2 separate regions of the Homo sapiens genome follow, and region 2 is linked to region 1. A link means that fine-mapping ties the variant in region 1 to the expression of a gene that starts in the linked region. Tissue or cell type: whole blood. Region 1 holds a variant in brackets; the other region holds the start of a gene. All regions are shown on one strand. Distances are between the middles of the regions. Region 1 overlaps SLC9D1 (solute carrier family 9 member D1). Region 2 holds the start of SLC9D1 (solute carrier family 9 member D1).

Evidence for each region. PIP is the estimated chance that this variant, and not a neighbour inherited with it, causes the effect.
Region 2: it holds the start of SLC9D1, and the variant in region 1 is fine-mapped to the expression of SLC9D1 in whole blood (INTERVAL, PIP 0.94).

What each region holds. Positions count from the first base shown.
Region 1 is chr13:113,523,037-113,531,371 of GRCh38, reverse strand. All of the region lies in intron 8 of SLC9D1 (solute carrier family 9 member D1), which reads right to left. Among named protein-coding and RNA genes, the nearest start is that of SLC9D1, 36 kb to the right of the region's middle. The variant C/A (reference allele first, on the strand shown) is at 4,191.
Region 2 is chr13:113,485,833-113,494,167 of GRCh38, reverse strand. It overlaps SLC9D1 (solute carrier family 9 member D1), which reads right to left and starts at 3,147. Exons shown (of 13, transcript NM_017905.6): 1 at 2,895-3,147. It overlaps DCUN1D2 (defective in cullin neddylation 1 domain containing 2), which reads left to right and starts at 3,457. Exons shown (of 7, transcript NM_001014283.2): 1 at 3,457-3,501. The coding sequence starts at 3,499. RefSeq lists a silencer at 2,837-3,756 and an enhancer at 3,987-4,286.

The DNA.
Region 1 (8,335 bases):
TTTGGACAAGCTTCCCATCAGCACATCTGACCTGCGGACAGGTGAGTGGACAAGCTTCCCATCAGCACGTCTGGCCCGCGGACAGGTGAGTGGACAAGCTTCCCATCAGCATGTCTGGCCAGCGGACAGGTGAGGAAGGGCTCCCTGGCGGGACGCACCATCATTTGCTCAGCCAGATGCAAGGGCTGTCCCGGTTCTCACACTGACTCCACGGCCATCCTGGTTCTTGGGCGCTGCGGTGACCAAGGAGCCTGTGGGTCCACTGATGGTGGCAGTGGGTGCTCACTAAGGGAGCCGGGTGCCTCCCACTATGACAGGTGCTGTCTGGTGGGCCGCCAGGAAGTTGCTCCAATTCCCATCCCAACAATGATGCCCAAGGTACCCCACTTCCCAACCTGGGCACCACCCAGCTTCTAATGGTGCCCAGTCTGATGGGCGGGTGGTGCCATCACCCTTCTTTGGTGTGAGGGTGGGTGTTTCCTACTTTACTCAAGTCTAATAGCTGCTTTGCTGCTGACCTGTTTTCAAACTCAGTTATTCATATTTTTCTTATTAAGGTATAGGAGACCTTTATAAAATAAGAAACATAAGCCTCTGTCTTTAATATGGGCATAAACATCTGTTTTGCTTTATTACAGCCTTCTGTGTTCTGTTCTTTACCTGTGAAATATTTTGAGGGAAAGAGTTCTTTCCTCTAGGAATGATCAAGGTTAATTCTGAATAAAGCTTAATAAGAAAGCAGAGTCTATTATGTTGCAACTAATTTTATTTCTTTGATATTTTAAATATAAATTTTCCCTCGTTATTAAAATTGAAAGGGAGGTTTTCCTAAATTACAGAAAAGTATATATAGTAGAAAAAACTTAGTACAAATCTACCAGTCTACTAGTAGAAAATCATTAACACCTTGTTATATATACATATATATATTTCTAGTCTCTATTCATGTTCTTCTATGTCTAATTAAAATATCGTATATATTTTTAACAGCTATGATATATAATTCACTTACCATACAACTTACCCATTTAAAGTATACAATTCAATGGTTTCCAGCATATTCACAAAATTACACAACTATTACCACAATCCATGTTAGAATACTTTCATCATCCCAAAAAGAAACCCTGTACCCATCAGCACTTCCTCCCCATCTCCCCCAACCTCCCCACCCTCCGGCAACCAGTAATTCATCCTGTCTGTACGGACTGGCCTAGTCTGGACGTTGGTATGAATGGAATCACACAGCGTGTGGACTTTTTGTCCGGTTCTTTCAGAAGCATCGTGCTTCATCTGTGCTATAGGATGAATCAATGTTCATTCTATATTATGGCTGAATAATATTCCTTTGCTGAATATAGTATGTTTTGTATATCTACCTGTTATCTAATTGACATTTGAGTTCTTAATACTTTTTAACTATACGAATAATGCTGCTTGAACATTCAGGTACAAGTTTTTCATTGTGGTGAAACTCTCATACAATAAAATGTACCATGTTAACCATTTCTGAGTGTGTAACTCTGTGGTATCAGGTGGATTCACACTGTTGTACCCCCATCACCACCGTGTATCAGTCTGAATGTGGATGTGTGTTTTTGTTTCTTGCGGGTAAATACCGAGGAGCGAACAGCTGGGTCAAATGGGAGCTCTGTGTTAGCGTCAGGAGGAACGTGGTCTACAATTCTGACTCTGTTTCTGTTTCTTTTGTTTTTTTTTTTTGAGATAGAGTCTTGCTCTGTCGCCCAAGCTGGAGTGCAGTGTCGTGATCTCAGCTCACTGCAACCTCTGCCTCCTGGGTTCAAGTGATTCTCCTGCCTCAGCCTCCCGAGTAGCTGGGAATACAGGCACGTGCCACCATGCCTGGCTAATTTTTTGTATTTTTAGTAGAGACGGGGTTTCACCGTGTTAGCCAGGATGGTCTCGATCTCCTGACCTCGTGATCCGCCCCCCTCAGCCTCCCAAAGCGCTAGGATGACAGGCGGAAGCCGCTGCGCCCGGCTCTCAAGCCATCTTCCTGCCTCAGCCTCCCAAAGCGCTGGGATGACAGCGTGAGCCGCTGCACCCGGCCCGATTCTGTTTCTTAAGTTTAACAGCATTACAGAGTATTTTTCCAAGTCATCAACTCTTTGTAAACATGAAGTGTCATGACTGAATTAGAACAATTTCGGTGGGATCAATACCTGTACTGCATTAATTTTTTGAATTGGAAAAAAGGGAAAAAAAAGCTTTAAAAGTGTTCTGATTAAGACAATGTCTTATGCCAGCATGTTAGACCTGCGTGTAACTGGAAAGAACGTGGCAGTGAGATCAACGTGGTGTTTGAGTTTTACAAATGCCCTGCAGTCTCTGCCAGGGCTCTGCTTGTTTCGTATGGAGAGTCCGCCCTCCGTTGAGAATAACTGGTTGTGCGTGGAAAATGCTCAGACCTCTTAACTAGAAGTCATCTCCGGCTAGCATGACAACCCTTCCTTCTGTTGTCCAAATTATGTTGTTCAACTTATGTTGGACATTGTAGCCAGAAGGAATAAGAACTGATTCCGATGTGGCGGTTGGGACTAAAAGCGTTATTTTTCTGATATTTAAAGACATCTGGATCAAAGGAAAATGGCCATGATAAGGACCCTCTTATCATAAGGACCCTCTTATCATAAGGACCCTCTTATCACAAGGACCCTCTAGCGAGTGAACTCTAACCACTGCCTCCACCAGCGGCTGCACTAAGTGCCCTGCCTGGTTTTCTCTTTCAGTCTTCCCACGGTCCACCAGGTAGGCACTGTTCCCACGTCCTCCCCAATTCACAGAAAGCTGCCAGGGCTTGCACGGCCAGAGCATGGCCAAGCTGGGGCTCTAGCCTGGGCTGAACCTCTGGAAAACCCAGGTAAACAGCCCTTCATTCCTTCTACTTTCCTGCCTGCCTGGCTGAGCTACCGACAGCAGGGAAGATGTAACAGAAGATCTGGCAAAAGGCAAATACTAAAAAATTCTTCCACCCCACCGCCTGCCATGAGGAAGCGCTTGCCAGCTGTTTGGGCCGGGGTGGGGCTGGAGGCCTGGCAGGAAGCAGAACCCCCTGGCCAGGCCTCACACCACCCTCCCCAGGGGAGTCACTGGTTTAAAGCCTCCTAATAAACACACGAACCACCCAGGATACAACGAAAAGTCGCTCATCATATTAAGAATCGGGAAAATCACAACTTGAAGGAGAAAAGACAAGCGCCAGACTTCACATCGAGACGAACGGATACTGGAGTTATCTGATGAGGGTGTTAAAGCAGCCATGACTAAAACGCTTCAAAAGGCCACAAACACTCTCTGTAAACAAATAAAAAATAGAAAATCTCAGCCAAGAAATAAAGGCTACATAAAAGAAGTAAGTGGAAATTATACAACTAAAAAAATACAGTCATAATAAAAATCTCTGGGGATGGGCTAAGTGGCAGAGTGGAGACGAGAGAGGGCAGAACCGGTGACCCCGAGGACAGACAGAATTCATCTGCCTGAACACACAGAAACGGACCGAGGACGGTCAAGGCCTCAGAGACCCGCAGGACCCTAACCAAAGAGCAGATTTCTAAGTTTCCGCAATCGCAGGAGAGAACAAGTGGACTGAAAAAGGATGTGAGGAAATGATGGCTGAAAACTTCCTGTTAGCCAAGAGACATAAACCCACAGATGCGAGAAGCCAACTGAATCCAAATAGAACAAACCCAGAGAAATCTGCTCCAGGATGTATGGTAATACAATTTCTGAAAACTAAAGACAGAGAAAAAAACCTTGAAAGCTGCCAGAGAGAAACCCCTCATTCCTTCGAGAGAAGCACAAGTCTAAACAGCAGCAGGTTTCATAGCTGGAACACAGAAGCCGGGGGCAGGGACACGCGCTTCCCAGGCACTGGATGAGGAGAGCCACCACCTGGAAATCCACATCCCGTGAGATGCCCTCGGAGTGACGCGGGGACAAAGGCCATTCCCAGACGAAGAAAAACTTAGAGAATTTGTGGCCAGCAGATTAACCATGAAAGAATGACCAAAGAAAGTTCTCTACACAGAGAGGAAATGATTACAGAAGATAGATGGGAACATCAGAAGGGAAAGAAGAACACCAGAATGGGTAAAAACAGGTATGAGAAGAAGAGATTATCCTTTTCCTCCTGAGTTTTCAAAATCGTATTTGATGTCTGCAGTAAA[C/A]ATTACAACACCATCTGCTGTGGTATTCAATAAAAGAAGAGAAAAGACAACAATTATACAGTCATGTGCCACTTCACAATGGGGACACATTCTGAGAAGCATCATAAGGCAATTTCATCATTGTGCAGACATTCCAGAGTGCATTTACACAAACCCAGACCCACCCAGGCCGCCTGGCACTGCCTCCTGCTCCTGGACCACACACCTGCACAGCACGTGACTGCACTTAATACTGCAGCCAACTGTAACACAATGATAAGTATTTGCATATCTAAACACAGAAAATACACACTGAAAGTATAGCATCAAAGGTAAAAATGGCACACCTGTACAGGGCGCTTGCAGGACTGGAGGTTGCTCTGAGTGAGTCAGGGAGTGAGGGTGAGTGAATGTGAGAGCCTTGGACACTACTGTAAACCACGGCAGACGCCACAGGCGCTGTACACTCAGGCTACACTAAACTGAGACAGTGTCTCACTGTGTTGTCCAGGCTGGAGAGCAGCGGTATGATCACAGCTCACTGCAGCCTTTATCTCCCAGGCTCAAGCAATCCTACAGCCTTCGCCTCCAGAGTAGCTGGGACTATGGGTGTGCGCCACCACGCCTGGCTAATTTTTTTTTTTTTGGTAGAGATGAGGTCTTGCTATGTTGCCCAGGCTGGTCTTGAACTCCTAAACTCAAGCAATCCTCCCGCCTTGGCCTCCCAAAGACTAGGATTACAGGTGTGAGCCACCACACCTGGCCAACTGTGCTGAGTTTATTAAAAATATTTTTCTTTCTTCAGTATTAACCTTAACTTACTGTAACTTTTTAACTTTATAAACTTTAAGGTTTTTAAAAACTTTTTGACTCTTTTGTAATGACACTTAAAACAGAAACTGTATGGCTGTACAAAAAATATTTTCTTTCTTCTTATTTATTCTATACGTTTTTTTCTATTTTAATTTTTTTTAACTTTTTAAACTTTTTGGTTAAAAACTAAGACACAAACACACATTAGCCTAAACCCGCACAGGGTCAGGACCATCAGTGTCGCTGTCTTCCACGTCCGCATCCTGTCCCACTGCAAGGTCTTCAGGTGGAATAACCGGCACAGAGCTGTCGTCTCCTACGACGACGACGGCTTGTTCTAGAATAACCGGCACATAGCTGTCGTCTCCTACGACGACGACGGCTTCTTCTAGAATAACCGGCACAGAGCTGTCGTCTCCTACGACGACGACGGCTTGTTCTAGAATAACCGGCACAGAGCTGTCGTCTCCTACGACGACGACGGCTTGTTCTAGAATAACCGGCACAGAGCTGTCGTCTCCTACGACGACGATGGCTTGTTCTAGAATAACAGGCACAGAGCTGTCGTCTCCTACGACGACGATGGCTTGTTCTAGAATAACCGGCACAGAGCTGTCCTCTCCTACGACGACGATGGCTTGTTCTAGAATAACCGGCACAGAGCTGTCGTCTCCTACGATGACGATGGCTTGTTCTAGAATAACAGGCACAGAGCTGTCGTCTCCTATGATGACGATGGCTTGTTCTAGAATAACAGGCACAGAGCTGTCGTCTGCTATGATGACGATGGCTTGTTCTAGAATAACCGGCACAGAGCTGTCGTCTCCTATGATGATGATGGCTTGTTCTAGAATAGCTCCTGAAGAACCTGCCTGAGGCTGTTTTGACAGTTCTACTTCTCTTTATAAGTAGAAGGAGTACACTCTAACGATAAAAAGTATAGTAAATACATAAACCAGTAACAGTGATTTATTGTCGTTATCAAGTATTCCGTACCATGCCTAATTGGGTGTGTGAGCCTTTTATATGATTGGCAGTGCAGCAGGTTTGTTCGTGCCAGCATCACCACAAGCATGGGGGCATTACACTGCCCTGTGACGTTACAAGGGCTGCAACCTCACTAGGCAACAGGAATTGTTCAGGTCCAGAGAATCCCACCCGACCACTGCTGTACAGGTGGCCCATCACTGACCAAAATGTCATTATGCAGCGCGTGACTATTTAACATGTGGGCAGGGGGAGGGAGCTAAGTGGAAATAAGGCTTCTACATTTCACATGAAGTGGTAAAACGTGGATTCCAGCAAACAGTGATAAGTTACATGTGTCCACTGTGATACCCAGAGCAACCAGGAAAACCACACAGAGCAATACACTCAAAACATTATAAATGAGCCTAAACAGAATCCCTGAAAACACGCAGTCAACCCACAGAGATGTAAAAGAAAAAGAGTAACGAGACAAAAAACAAATAAAATGCAGACTTAAGTTGCAACATATCAATATTTACCTGATATGTAAATGGTCTAAACATACCAATTAAAATACAGAGACTGGCTGAGTGGATTTAAAAAAATCATCCAACAATATGTTCTCCACAAGAAACTCACTTCAAATACAAGGGCATAAGTTGAAAGGAAAAGTATGAAAAGGATACACCATTGCAGACATTGACCAAAAAAAAAAATAATATTATTTTAATATCAGATAAAGTGAATTACACGGCAAGGAAAATTACTAGAAACAAAAGAAATATGGCCAGGCACAGTGGCTCACACCTGTAATCCCAGCACTTTGGGAGGCCGAGGCTGGAAGATCACTTGAGGCCAGGAGTTTGAGACTGGCCCGGCCAACATGGCGAAACCTTGTCTCTACTAAAAAATACAAAAATTAGCCAGGTGTGGTGGCACACGCCTGTAATCCCAGCTACTCAGGAGGCTGAGGCACGAGAATCACTAGAACCCAGGAGGCAGGAGCCGAGATCACGCCACTGCATTCCAGCCTGGGCAACAGAGCAAGACTATGTCTCGAAAAACAACAAAAAAAGAAATATTACATAATGATAACAAGATCAATTCACCAGGAAGACAAAATGATCCTAAATGTGTATGTACCAAACAAAAGAGCCCCAAAATACATAGAGCAAAAGCTGATTGAACTCAAAGGAGAAACAGACAAATATCCAATTCTAACGGGGGACTTCAATACCATCTCCCTCAACAACTGATACAACTACAGCAAGAACACGAAATAGCGCAGTTAACTGACTGACATATATTAAAAAAAACTCCACTCAACAATAACAGAATACACTTTTTTTTCCTCCCAAGTGACTTTGGAGCATTTACCACAGACAGTATCACTGGCCATAAAACAAACCTCAACAAATGTAGAAGAACTGAAATCATACAAAATGTTCTCGCGCCACAGTGGACTCAAACTACAAATCAGTAACAGAAAGACATCAGGAAAATCTCCAGATGTATGGAAATTAAGCAACACTTCTAAACAATCCATGAGTCAAAGAAGTATCAAAGTAAATTTTTAAAACTCATTGAACAAAATGAAAATAAAAATACAACATATCAAAATATGAGATGCGGCTAAAACAGTGCTGAGAGGGAAATTTACAGCAGTAAATGCTTACAGTAGAAAAGATGAGAAGTTTAAAATCAATAATCTAAGTTAAACCATAAGAACCTAGAAAAAGAAAAGTAAAATAAACCCAAAGCAAGAAGGAAGGTGAGGGTAGAAACTAATGAAATTGAAAACAACAACAAAATAAAGAAAATCAATAAAACAAGGAACGAATTCTTTGGAAAGATTAATACAATTGCCAAATCCCTAGACAAAGATGATGCAAGTTATCAACATAAGCAATGAAACAGAAGATATCACTACAGACCCTGTGGACATCAAAAGAATGATAAAGGAATACAACACAAAAACTCTGTATATATAAATCTGACAACTGAGACAGAGTGGAACAATTCCTCAAAAAGCTAAGCTACCACAACTCAACAATATGAAGTAGATATTCTGAATATCTACTGTGACTATTAAGCAAATTAAATTTGTAAGAAAACTCCCCAAAAGGAAATCTCATGACCCAGAGGGTTTTACTGCAGAATTCTACCAAATATTAAGGAAGAACTGACATCAATTTTATACAATGTTTTCCAGAAAATAAAAAGAAAGGAACACTTCCCAAAACATTTTGTGAACCTAGTATGACTTTTATTACCAAAACCCAAAGAGTATCAAAAAAAAAAAGAGAGAACTACACACCAATATCTCTCATGAAGTTAGACCCCAAAATCCTCAATAAATTAGCAAACTGAAGGCAGCAATGTAT
Region 2 (8,335 bases), 37 kb after region 1:
CAGCATCCAATGGACTGTTACTCAGGAATTCCTACTCAACCATCACATATTACAAAGATTCCCCGACCTGGAAACCTGGTTACTAAAAGATGTATCTATATATCTATACTTTCATTTCACTGCTAACCCAAATTCTAATTGGTTTAATCGAGTTTCCCAGGCAAAGTAGGTTAGATGCAGCAAAAGTAAGGGCAGCATTTCTGGAGGCAGCATTCTGCCCAAACCATGAAATGGCAGCCACAGAAAGAGACAAACCTTATGCAAAACAAACAGGAGAACTAAAAAAGCCTGGAGGCCAGATGACTCGGTGAAGGCTCAGCGACTGTCTGCACCCCAGCAGGTCCTGAAGACAGTACTGTGTTAGACAACAGTACTGATCAGAATTACAAGCAAAAGTCACCAAGAAAAGACTATATTCTGGTTAGAAAGTGTTCAATTCAAAACATTCTTGGAGACTGACTCCCAAAAGGAGAAGCACACTCCACAGAGAATTCACTTACCTAGAACAGGTAACTTCCTAACAAGATAGGATAAATGATAATGTGCTGTTCCAATCACTCAATTTTATGTTAGTTTCAATACAACTTTAAGTACACGTGTACAACTTTAAGTACACATTTACCACCTTAAAAACAAACAATGAGGCAATCACTTAGTCATGCCTAGCCATATAGCTGAGCTGTTATTTTAATGACTCACTCAACTGCTAAGCTTCTCTCGGTTGGTCCAACGGAGCTAAATAAATCAACAGCTACTTCACAAGTGAACTTTTAGTATTTTCCAGAACCAAGACAGAAATCTGAGATGCTTTGCTTACACTTCCCAGTTTCCCCAAAAGATCCCAAAAAGTGATTCTTTGATGGATTTTATGCTTCAGAAAAATAAGTTTCAACACAGCTCATGTGTGAATGACACCTCTATGTTCATTTCTGGTTCCTTCCTCAATCAGGTTCCTAAAATTAGTTGTCCCTCTAAGGGAGCTATAATTTTTATGAGAAACCTTTGAGGATTTTAGTTGTAGTTATACTAAAATTTCCCACTGAAACATACTCATAACATGAAACTGAAATTATTTATGGACCCTTAAAATACAAATCACCTTTATTCAAACTCATTTCATTTTATCTTCAAACTTGCCTCCAAAATCCTACTGACTACTAAATTGTAGCATGTTTTTTGAGCAAATTAGTAAACATCTTTAGCTGTTCTAGTTATTAAAAAGACACTTTGGATTCCTGTAATGTGTTTTTTTTGTTGTTGTTGCTGTTTGAGACGGAGTTTTGCTCTTGTCACCCAGGCTGGAGTGCAGTGTTGTGATCTCAGCTCACTGCAACCTTTGCCTCCCGGGTTCAAGCAATTCTCCTGCCTCAGCCTCCCAAGTAGCTGGAATTACAGGCGCTCGCCACCACACCCAGCTAATTTTTGTATTTTTAGTAGAGACGGTGTTTTGCCATGTTGGCCAGGCTGGTCTCAAACTCCTGACCTCAGGTGATCCACCCACCTCAGCCTCCCAAAGTGCTGGGATTACTTTTTAAATAATGAATTCTTAGAATTTCTGCATCTTGAGCAATTGATACACATAACAATGCGGATGTATCTCAAGGCTGAGTGAAAAAAAATCTCAATTTTATTGAGAAGACACACAGGTGTAGATTCACACTCACTAGTGCATGTATAGTTGGTGCAATCTCAACAGGTCAGGGGATTTGATCAAAGAAAATTCCCCACATATACTATGGTTTTGCAAGGTGCTACCATTGGAGAAAACAGGGCAAAGGCACTCTGTAGGATTTCTCTGTATTACTCCTTACAACTTCATGTGATCTACAACCATCTCAAAATAAAAAGGTTTTCAAATTCTACCTAAGACCAGGTGCGGTGGTTAATGCCACTGCTGTATTACGACACAATTATCTGTATTCCCAGCGCTCTGGGAGGCTGAGGTGGGCGAACTGCTTGAGGTCAGGAGTTGGAGATCATCCTGGGCAACACAGCAAGACCCTGTCTCTATTAAAAATGAAATAATTAGCCGGGCGTGATGCTCCCTGTGGCCCCAGCTCCTGGGGAGGCTGAGGCGGGAGAATCGCTTGAGCCTTGACCAGCCACTGCACTCCAGCCTGGGCGACAGCAAAACTCTGTCTCAACAACCACAAAAAAGCTTTAGAATATTTAAGTCAAGCCTGTAGGAGAAAAAAACTACAAATATTTCACAAGTAATCCAATCATTAAGACACTCCTTTTGAAAAAGCCGGTAAATAAGATAAATTTGGAAGACAGAATAATCAGAAAAACAGGCAGTGAATAGGGACCCGATACGCAGCGGTCTTGCTTCCCCCGCGCAGGCGTCCACACCCTGGGTCATGGACACCGTGAGGAGCCGTTAGGAGTCACAGGAGGGGGGCCAGGGACAGGGCTGCATCTCTGCGGCCGGCCCTGGAGGCCCCGAGTCCACCCGGGCGGCCAGGGTGGGAACGCAGGTTCCATTCCAGGTTAGAACGTGGGCCTCAGCGAAGAGCGCCTAGGCAAGGCCTGGAGGAGCGGGACCCCAGGCCACACAGACCACCCGACCCCGGGAGACAATACCTGCAAGAAAAGGGGAGCCCCGAGGAGAGAGAGAGGGGAGGTGAGCCCCAGGGAGGGAGAGAGAGGAGGGGAGCCCCAGGGAGGGAGGGAAGGAAGGAAGGGGACCCCTGGGAAGGGAAGAAGGGAATGGGAGCCCCGGGGAGGGAGAGAGGGGAGCCCCAGGGAGGGAGGGAAGGAAGGAAGGGGACCCTTGGGAAGGGAAGAAGGGAAGGTGAGCCCCGGGGAGGGAGAGAGGGGAGGGGAGCCCCAGGGAGGGAGGGAAGGAAGGGGACCCCGGGAAAGAGCCCCGGATGGACGGGCCTGGTGCTCACCGGGACGCAGGGATCCGCGCCCGCCCGTCCGGCCCGAGCATCACCGTTCCGCGGCCTGGGCCGGGCTCTGAGGCGCCAGGACCCGAGGGGCGGAGGGGGACGCTGTCTCCCGCCTCGGAGCGCAGCGCCGGAGGGCTTCCTTGCATCCCTTCCCAGGCGGGACCAGGGAGGCCGGGAGGCCGGGAGTCCGGGAGGGAGCGGCCGCCGCCCTGCCCAGCACCGCCCCCGCTCAGCCAAGCCGACCCGGACTCCCGCCCAGCCGCAGTCACTGCCCCCTTTAAGAGGCGGGGCGTGGGCGGGTCCCGTCGGCCGCGGGCGGCGAGCACTTCCTGGCCGGCGTGGGGCCTGGCAGCCGCAGGCTGGCGTTGGACCCCGCAGGGGCGAGCCAAGGCCCTCGCAGAGGGCTGGACGCGCAGGGGCTGTGGGGCGCGAGCTCCCGTGGGCCCCCGGGCGGCGCTGAGCATGCCGGGAGTGGGAGTCCCCGCGGCCGGCTCCCGGCACTGCCCCGGAGCCGAGGGCCGCGGCCGTCCGAGGACGAGGGCGGAGCCGCCGCCGCGCCTGCGCAGAAGGCCGGGGCCGGCCAGAAGCGGGCGGCGCGGGGGAGATGGTAGGTGGCCCGGCGTCGCCTCTGCCCGTCGGGGTCGGGGTCGGGGTCGGGCCCCAAGGTCGGCGCAGGCGGCGCGCTGGATGTGGGAGGCCGAGCCCAGCGAGCTGCGCGGGGCGTTCCGCGTGGATCCGAGGGAGGAACGCGCCGCGGGCCCGCGAGCCGGAGCGGTGGCGTCGGAGGCGCGGGACCGCGGGGAGCGCGGGTTTGACCCGGAGCCGCGAGGGACGACCGGGAGTGAGCGGAGGGCGGGGGCCGGGAGGAACTGTAGGGGCCTTGGGGCAGGGGCCGGGGCCGAGCGGGAACCCAGGCCGGGGGCTTCCCAGGGCGGCTTCGAAACGGGCAGTCGAGGCGGGCGAGGGCTCGGCTGCTCCTGCGGGCGTCTGTGCAGATGCTGAGGCTGTTGACCAAAACAGCGCAAGGAAGGAATCCGCGAGAAGCTCAGATTCGCGGGGGAGGCCCTGCTGCCGGGAGGGGAGGGAGAGGCACAGCGGGGCCCTAGCGCGGGCTCTAGCCGGGAGCTGTAGCGTGGCTGTAGGTGTGCATCTGTGGAGCTGGTAGAGTTCCGCAGCGCAGGAGGGAGGCTGCTGGAGGTGCACATCAGTTACTTTGAAATGTGGTGGAAATGGTGATGGATGGGATTTATTCAGTCCACATCGGTTCAGAGGCCAGCAAGGTGCTGCTGGGTGTGACTGGTGCTGGGCCAGGCATGATCTTGGCGTTGAGGGAGTTGATGCCCCAGCAGGGGAGACAGGCACCAGATGCACAATTGTTTGACCACAGTTGGGACAAAGGCTAAGGCACGGGTTCCAGGAACTTGTAGGATGCGGCTGTGGGAGTGGTGTCAGATGCTGAGGGTGTGAGTTGAACTGTGGAGAATTTCTCTGGAAATTAGCCAGAGAAAAAGTGAGGTTCCGGGGCAGCCAGCCGTGTGCGGCTCCAGGCAGAAGAAACAGAATGCACAGACCCTTAGTGGTAGGCGATGATGACGTATAGGAGCTGAAAGATTGTCCTGGCTAAGGCACAGAGAGCCACCGGAGAAGGGACACGGTAACGTGTAGAGGGGAGTGGAGGGTGAGGACAAGCTTCAGGATGGGAGAAGAGCCACAAAGGAGACTGAGAGGGGGCTGGTAGGAGAAACCAGGACACTAGAATGTGTCGAAACCAAGAGGATGGAGTTTAAAGGAGGAGGGAGCCATCAGCAGTGCTGAACAAAAGAGCAGCTGAAAAGATCCCACTGACCGCAGCAGCCGAGCTTTTGTGACCTTTAGGGGTCACTGCGGAGGCCGGGCTGGAGCCAGGTAGCCTGAGTTAGGATGCACACCTGGGCAGGTAGAGATAGCTTGCTCCAGCTTTTAGGAGGACAGGGGCAGAGTGGACAGGAACTTAGTTTGGGGAAAACTTGAACATGTTCAGGATGCTGGAGAGGAGCGTTCCACTGCTGCCGAGGTTGGAGATCCAAGAGCAGGGATGAATTTAACTCCCCCTCCCTCTAGCGTGCTGTATACCGAAACAGAGTGAAAGTGATCCATAAACTTACGTAGTTTATTCGATCAACATGATTGGCCCGCCAGCCCCGGGTAAGTTGACCCTAAGGACATTTTAAGAGTAATTTCTTTCCATTTTACATATGGGTATCCTTGGTGCCAGATTATATGAGTCGTATTTCACAAGGTCACAATTAAAGTGTTTGAGACTTTTTTATAGTTTAGAGATTTTATTTGCTGTTTCCACTGGATTGTCCAGATTTTTATTTCAAGAATTGTGTACATTTTAACAGAAATAATGAAACCTAGAAAATGCCTTCCCCCCACCCCATGTACACACTTTAAAAGCTGGCCTTAATAATTTAATTTGCATGATGTGGTAAGCCTCAGTGAAGGTTGTGAGCTTGAAGGGCGGCCCTAGTTCCAGTGTATCCACCTTGATTAGATTGACCTGGGTTCAGTCCTGTCTGGGTGCACTCGAAGCTTCTTGCCAACGTCTGGGCCTTTGTTAATTTGACCTGGGTTCAGTCCTCTCTTGGTGCACTCAAAGCTTACTGCCAATGTCTGGGCCTTTGTAAATTTGATCTGGGTTTAGTCCTGTCTAGAGGGACTCGGCTTCCTTCTCTCCCCTGTAGTTTTTTAGTTGACGAGCCTTTTTGTTTCCTAAGAAGCTTTATGCCAGTTCCCTTTTTCACAAGAGGTAACTTGGGTCTCTCAGTCACTTTTGGACATGAAGCACCTAGTCTTTAGACTTAGCTATCGATCATTGCTTTAATCACTGTTATTTTATGGAGAAACCTGTAAGGGGTGACATCAAATGATTGCAGCTTTGTTGACTGACCAGAGGCCTGTTAATGGACTAAGCCTAGACCCCAAAGCTTCTCTTGCTCCTTCAGAACCAGTGCCTTGGCACCACCGTGTGGTTCAGGGTTTACTGGAGTATCTTGTGACATCAGACAATTTGAGTAGATTGCAGGGGGCTCTTCGTGTTTCTGGATACCGACTTCTGTCCACTCTAGCTAACAGTAGTGATTCAAAGCCATTTTGAGTGGCCTGGATCCATGTGCTCCTGCATCTGTTCTTCTAGAGTTCCAAGAAATTAGGCTGCTGGTGTTATGGTGTTGTCACACATTAGGGGAGGCTTCAAGGGGTTATCGGCAGGAGCTCAAGATCAGACACCATCATATCTTCCAGATTTGCACATTCCTGGTGTGGAGTCATCAGTTGTATAATGCTGGTTAAATAATTCAGTCGCCGAAGAGTATATTAGTCTGCTGATTGGTCTTGGAGGGTCTGAGGGTACAATGTTGAATTTTTTTAGGTGAAATTCATATAACATAAAATTAACTATTTTAAAGTGTACAATTCAGTGGTGTTTAGTACGTTCACAAATTTGTGGAACCACTACCTCTATCTAGTCCTAAAACATTTTTGTCACCCCGAACGATAACTGTACCCATTAGCAGTCACTCCCAACTCCTCCCTTGCCCCAGCCCCTGGCTACCACTCACCTTTCTCTCTATATAGATGTGCCCATTCTGGATATTTCATATAAGTGAAATCGTACACTGTGTGGCTGGAATCGCACACTGTGCGGCTGGACTCATGCACTGTGCGGCTGGAGTCGTGCACCGTGTGGCTGGACTCGTGCACTGTGGCTGGAGTCGTACACTGTGCAGCTGGAGTCGTGCGCTGTGTGGATGGAATCATACACTGTGTGGCTTCTTGTGCCTGGTTTCTTTTACTCAGTGTCAAAAGTTCATCCATGTGGCATGTATCAATACTTCATTCCTTTTTATGGCCGAATTATGTTCCGTTATATGGATATAGTAAATGTTGTTGTATAACCATGGCAGATTTTTAAATCTAGCAACGATGACCACTTCCATAATAAGGGCGTCATGGCTGTTCCTGGTGGTGGACCATTTTGGGGGCTGCACTTCTGTCTTTATCCTAAGGTTTTTGAGGTAATTCTTGGCTTTGCTCACCCTCCCTTGGGAAGGCTGTCAACTTCATAAAAAGACTCTAGCTGTATCTTTTGTCAGCTTACGGTCAGAGACTATGGGATCTGCCTTAATTTAGCTAAATTTGATCTTACCAGAGAATACAACCTTGAATTTTTTGTTTAGTTCTTTTCAAAAGCTCAGTTTCAGGAAATAATGTAGTGAATATGTATTCCATTTATTCCTCTAGAATCTAGATCGGGGTCGGCAAACTACAGCCCACAGGCTAGCTGTCTGTTTTTGTAAATTGAGTTTTATTGGAACACAGCCTACGGCTGTCTGCTTTGGCAACAGACCCACAGGCCTGAGATGGCAGAGATGGCTGCTGTCTGGAACATTAAGAGACAAAGTTGGCTGAATGAAGGCTTCTGATCTTCTTCATCCGTTCTTAATCTGAGTTCTACCTTCCCCTTGTGAGGACTTTGCAGATGGGCTTAAGCCATCTGTGAAACCCCTGAAATTTTATGCAAAGCTGCCTGCACGTGTGAGGGCCATATATGTTTTCCTGGAGGGCGGACCTGTGACTCCTCAGATTCCAAAAGGGATCCAAGACTCCCAAATGCTCAACACTCATTGTTTGAGTAGCCGAAATGTTAATTGCCTAGCATCACCTGAATTAGCCATTCTCTTAAGTGTTTAGTCTCAGGAGTTCGATGTGGTTTTTGGGTTTGTTTTTTGTTTTCTAACTTTTAGGTTCAGGGGTACATGTGCAGGTTTGTTATAAAGGTCAACTGTGTGTCATGGGAGTTGGTGTACAGATTATGTCGTCAACCAGGTACTAAGCACAGTAGCCGGTGGGTAGTTTTGGGATCCTCTCCCTCCTGCCACCCTCAAGCAGGCCCTGGTGTCTGTTGGTCCTTTTTTGTGTCCACGCCTGCTCAGTGTTCAGCTCCCACTTACAAGTGAGAACATGTGGCATTTGGTTTTCTGTTCCTGCGCCAGTTCACTTAGGAAAATGGCCTCCAGCTCCATCCATGTTGCTGCAAAGGACACAATCTCGGTCCTTTTTATGGCTATGTAGTATGCCATGGTATATATGTAGCACATTTCCTATATGTTTTTAAGAATGATTGGAACCCCAGTCATTCTTAAATGAGAGTTCTTGTTTGTGTGGGTAATAGTCATCAATATTGACCATATTAGAAATTAAAATAGTATTAAAATATTTCTATAGTTAATTAGCAATAAAAACCCATTACATTTTTGCAAATATCTTAATGTCTGGCTTGATAAAAGATAGGCTCTCGAATCTCGCGTTCATTCCTGTGATATCACAGGCCTTGCAGCCCACGGAGGCCTCTGCTGTGCACTCTGTGAGAATGAGAGTGAGCAAGGCTGGTGGCGGCT